Linked DNA regions of Homo sapiens: region 1 is linked to region 2. The links come from fine-mapping of genetic effects on gene expression. Tissue or cell type: tibial nerve. Region 2 holds a variant in brackets; the other region holds the start of a gene. All regions are shown on one strand. Distances are from middle to middle.

Region 1 (2,766 bases), 33 kb before region 2:
GCCCGCTTGGCCCAGGTCACTAGACGGAGCTAGTGGGGATCGCCAGGGGAAGGAAGGTGCTGCCACAGGGAATTTTCTCGTGCAGAGGGGAGACCTGCAATCCCTGGCTTTCACAACGTCCCCCACCCACCCCATACCACACACGCTTAGTTTAACCAGCAGCGAGGAAGGAGGAGGAGCCGGAGAGCACACAGCCTGGAGATGCCAGGTCCTAGGAGATGTATCCACGGAAGAAGCTTTGCTCTCACACTGAAGCCCTCCCTGGGCTACTTTGGGGAGACAGTACCACCCCCTGCCGCCCAGGTGAAGTAAGCCCGAAAGCCTCAAGAAAACCCCTAGTCCCCGGCGTCCTTCTCTTGATAACCCTCTTTCCCCATTTGGGAAGCCTAAGTTTAGCCGAAAAGCAACTGCAATAAGTTTCCCAAGGGCAGATAGGTGATGTTGGGGGGAGAGGGTAGGGAGCACGAGAGTGCCAGAGAGGTCTTCAGCTGCGCACAAAATCAGCAAGCTAAAGTGCATCTTACTTACCAAGGATTTGGTCTCCGGGTTTCCCATCGGCGAACTGAAACTGGTCCGTGAAGAAGTGGCAAAGTAACATAACTCCTGCAGCGGCCAGGTCGGCCTTCGGGAACCTCGCCATGCCGCCGCCGCCACCTCCCTACCCCACCCGCCAGTCCTTCGCCGGTGCTCGGGGGCTCCCGATGCAATAGGCACGACCGGGCCAAACGCTGCGGATCGGTCTCGGTAGGACCCGGAGGCCTTTGTAAATGTCGCTGCGATTTCACAGTAGGGAACCGAGAAGAGGAAGAAGCGAACGCGAGTAGGAGCGCAGCGCTCTTCGGACCTCTGAGGCTCTCTTTGCAACTTGCCACACTCGCAGCCCTCACCCGACACTGAACAACAACCGCGGGGAGGAGAGGCCACTTGCAGCCGAGGCTCGCAAACTGTCGGTTCCACTCGGGCAGCGCCAACCCGGTGCCCGCGGACGGTGACTTCCGAGCCCCAGCGATGCGCTCCACTGGGTTCAAAACAGATCTAATTCCACAGCCAGCGCCGCTGCCTGCCCCAGATCCACTAGGGCTGGTCGGCTCTGCAGGAACTTTCCTCTGTCTAGGGATGGCCCCGGCAGGAGGTTTAGGTTTGCGGGAAGGAGGTTGATGACGAAACCCTCCCGACAAGTTTTGCTTCTTTTCTTCGCCCGACGCAGGGCGCGCGTCCTTTCTCGCAGCCGGAGGAATGGGCAGCTCCAAAGAGCTGAGCCCTGGGAAGGTTAGGGCTGCAGCAGTCTGAGGTCCGAAGCCAGGAAAAAAATGTGTTTAAAAAAAAAAAAAAAAAAGAGGAAGAAGAAAGGAAAAGGGTGGAGTGGGAGGGAGTCACGCTGGAACCTATCGGGAGAGGGTTCCTCCGGGCTCAGGAGGAGGTGGCCCCAAGCCCCCGCGGAGCCCCAGGAGTTTGGTGGCGGAGGAGGCGCTGCCGTCGCCACGCTCCCCCGCGCTCCTTCTCCACACTTTGAGGAGGGAAGGCAGCTCGCAATTTGCCAGATCTGCCGCCGCACCCTCCTCCCTCCTCCCTCCGCCCTCCCCTTCGCTCCTCCAGGCTTCTCCCACCTTCCTCCCTGAAACCGGCAGCCCGCACAGACCTGTCCAATGGCTGCACTTTCCTCGGGGCTGGCTGAGGAGTCGCGGCCAACAGATTAAGCCGGGGGAGCCTAGCGAAGGGGAGGGAGAGGGCCACTCCAGCCCCGTGCGCCCCAGGCAGCCGGCTGCCCCAGAGCGCGGGGAGAGGGGACAGGCCGGGGAGCTATCGGGGGAGCGCGGGGCGGTACCTCCGCGCCGCCGGGGCGCCATCCTCGCAGCCTGCTCGCACGCCCTGGGCAGCTCCGCCAACTGCGCCCCACACCCACCTGGCTCCCGGGCCGCCTTCGCGCCCGACTGCGGGGGGCGATCGCGCCCCGCCCCGACCCTGGCGGGGTCTCCCTGGGCACGAAAGGGTTAACCACAGCTCGCCCCTTCGCGGAGGCTGGTTCTGGTAGTGGCTAGGGAGTGGAGAAAGCAAACCAGAGCCGGTTCGGTTACCGACTCTGCGAAGCCCCCTCGACCCCAGCCCAGCGCGGGAGGGTGGCGGAAGGTGGTGCACCGCAGCGTGGTCCCCGCCGCTGCCGCCGCGGCTTTGCAAAGTGTCAGCGGGGGCGAAAGCGAGAGTTTAAAGGAACAGGAGGCCCATTGAATTTCCTACCGGAGCTTTCAGGGGCTCTGGCTCCCCAGTTTGTTTTTGTTTTTTCAGCTCGGGGATCTGTTTCCGCGTTAACCCTTGCCGGCCCTCTCGTTAGTTGATATCTTATTTTGCATACAGTTAATCATTTTTGAAAGGGATAAATACAAGGAAAAGAAGCAAAGCGCTATTGGTTAAAAGTACAGGATCTAGAGCCCGGACAGCCTGGGCTGGAATTTCACCTCCCCCGCAATGAGCAGTTTATCTCCTAGCCTCAGTTATCCATCCATCAAATGGAGAGAATTAGAGTAACGCCCTTATAAGGTGGTTGCAATGGATTGGATGAGTTAACTGTATATTTAATAAATATAGAACATTGCCTACCGCAAAGTACATGGCTTTGTTTAAGTGTTTACTGAAGCAAAAGTGAGAGAAGACGACTTCAATCACATAATAAATGTGCATGTGTTCTAAGTTCAAGGTCCTTTCCACTCCAAGCTCTGAAGAGTCTATGGATGCTGTCAATAGATGTCTCGGCTTGCCACAAAACCCACT
Region 2 (2,766 bases):
CAAAGTAATTTTAAATAGCACCATAACATTTATAGACTTTGTCACACTATACATAATATTTATCTTGGTTCTTTTCAATAAACAGCTTACTAAACATCTTTCAATGTCATGAGGCATTTATTTTTTAAGATAAACTAAGGCTATTAAATGTTTCTTTTTAACTTCAGTTATACCGTATCTCTAGTGTTCTTTGGAAGTCTTAAAGTTTTTCAGCTTTGATTTCTGAATGGTGCCTTTCCCTGAGGATGTTATCCTGTAGAAAAGGCAGATTAATCCAGCATATATCAAATAAGCTGCTCATTTTCCCTGAAGTAAGCTGAACAGCATTGCGGAGTCAGACCAAGTGCTGGAAAATACCTTCCTAGTATCTAGACAGCAATTGCAGGCATACTTGGGAACTTGCTTCAGAGAGTGGTGTTTTTCTTTGTTATTTGTTTTTATGTTTTTTTTTTTAATTCTTTTCTTATTTTTATGTTAGATTTGCTTTTAGGGTAAATAATGACAAAACATGAAATAAGATGGAGAAATATTTGCTGTAAGATCAAGCAACAATTTGAATTTTTGCTTTTGCTGAGATAATTTTTGGCATCTTCATCAGGAAATCTTTGCTTATTCCTATGTACTGAATGGTATCGCCTTGAATACCTGAATGGTATTAACATTCCAATACCTGAATGGAATTGTTATGTTACTTTACATAACAGCTGCACAAGGGACGCTCACTAGCACAAGAACGGCAAGGAGGAAATCCACCTCCATGATCCAGTCACCTCCCACCAGGCCCCTCCTCCAATTCCACAGGAGATTTGGGCAGGGACACAAATCCAAACCATATTGTGTGGCTAAATGAAATTATCCGTAACACCTGCCATCACAGTCTTAATAAGTGGTACAAGAATAGTCTCAGAACTCTTTGTTTCAATTGGCCATTTAAGTTTAATAGTAAAAAACTGGGTAATGATAACAACGCACCATAAAACCTTTAGAAGAAAAGAAGAATGTTTTGTGGACTATTTTGGCCTTTTCTGCATGGGGCAGTTTTAAGTTATTAGCTTTTAAAGTGAGTAATTTTTAATGGAAACAACTTGATCAAAAATCTGCCACAGAATTTTGAGACCCATTATAACAACATTTAATGAGAAAAAATTATATAGTAATCACTCACGTTTAACTTATGTACCTTTTCTAGAACTTAAAAAGTCTGGATTAGAATATAGATAGCTATGTTTATTTCTTAGCTCTCATTTCAGAATCACAAGTTCCTCGAAGTTATAATGTGGGTTGATTTGTTTGTTACCTGATGTTCCTACACTATATATTAAGTATTCTAGGTGCTGCTGCAAAATATTAGTTGACATTACTAATTAATTAACTTCAGACTTAAAAATTATACACGGCAAATTATTTAACGTAGTCACTAAATTAAACCTTTTTAACATTCAAGAGCAATCCATGTTTGCTAAAGAATATTGAGAATATTTAGAATAGAGTATAAGCCATAATAAGAAATCAAAATTGTTCATAGGTTCACAAATAAGAGATGCATTTGTTCATTCAACATTGTTCACCACCACAAGGGTTTAGGCTGGTCCCTTTGGGTACAGAGCTCAGACAAGCCCTACATTCACAATGCCTACGTTCCCATGGTGGGAGACAAACTGCAAACAAAATGAGCAAAC[A/G]AAACCATAAAACTTGGAAGCAGTATGTTCTGGGGCAAAGATCACGAAGTGGGAAAGAATTTGATGTATGTGAAGCTTTTGTAGCTGAAGCAGAGGATGAGAATGGAATGAACATGTAGATGTTCACGAGGGCCAGTGTTAGGAAGTTGAATTTTTACTGTTAAGTACAAAAGGAAGCCATTGAAAGCTTTTAGATAGGGAACTAATGTCGCGTTATTGGAAGGAAATAAACCCCCCAAACAGGAAGGCAAAACCAAACCAAACCACACTGATTGCTATAAGGATGGTGGGGGAGCAAAACTGGATCAAAAGAGCTCCAACAGGAAGCAGCTGCAATAGTGCGTCTATCTAAGAGATGATGTGGCTTATGTTAAGGGGATAGCAGAGGAGGAGAGAAGATGATACAGTCAAGATGTATTTGGGAAATAGAACTAAGAAGACTTGCTGATAGACTGGAAGGGGGTAGGAGGAGAGAAGAATGATCCTGGGATATTTTACTGGAACACAAAGTGGACAAGAGTTCTGTTTCCTGAGATGGCAAGGGCTGACGGAGAGTTAGTGTGGCAGAGACCTGTGCTTTTCATGCATTACCAATACTCCCTTTCTTTCTTGGTGTCAGAATTCAGATTTTATTAAGGATGGGAATGGATCCAGCCAAAATCCATTGCTGCCTTCCCTTTCTTGAAGCTAGGTATGTGGCCTTCAGCTGGGTTATGGACAATGAGATACACATACTCAGAAGTATCATGTGAGATTTCTATAAAGGTGTTTGAGACTACATGATGTGACCCTTTTGTATTAAAGCTAAGCATACGTTCATCTGAAAACGTAGCACTTCTTTTCTTAGATAAATATCTAGCAAAAAATGCATACATATGTTTACCACAAGGCAAGTCCAAGAATATTTAAAACAGCACTCTTTCTATAACTTCAAATTAGAAACAGGCCAAAATGCCCATGAACAAATAGAATGGATAAGTAATTTTTGGCATATTCATTCACAATGAAAACTGCTGCAAAATGCCACAAGATGAATGAATTTCACAAATATAATGTTAAACAAAAAGCAAGATACAAAAGAATACAT

Which allele goes with the higher level. Positions count from the first base shown, and alleles are read on the strand shown. Sizes are in standard deviations (SD) of each study's normalised expression.
As copies of A replace G in region 2, the expression in tibial nerve of the gene that starts at base 1,288 in region 1 goes up (small effect, 0.24 SD a copy in GTEx).

The links. PIP is the estimated chance that this variant, and not a neighbour inherited with it, causes the effect.
Region 1: it holds the start of PLXDC2, and the variant in region 2 is fine-mapped to the expression of PLXDC2 in tibial nerve (GTEx, PIP above 0.99).

Annotation. Positions count from the first base shown.
Region 1 is chr10:19,814,954-19,817,719 of GRCh38, reverse strand. PLXDC2 (plexin domain containing 2) reads right to left here and starts at 1,288. Exons shown (of 14, transcript NM_032812.9): 1 at 529-1,288. The coding sequence starts at 640. LOC124902388 (a long non-coding RNA gene) reads left to right here and starts at 1,492. Exons shown (of 2, transcript XR_007062078.1): 1 at 1,492-2,766. RefSeq lists an enhancer at 1,599-2,364.
Region 2 is chr10:19,781,842-19,784,607 of GRCh38, reverse strand. No RefSeq gene overlaps it. Among named protein-coding and RNA genes, the nearest start is that of PLXDC2, 33 kb to the left of the region's middle. The variant A/G (reference allele first, on the strand shown) is at 1,680.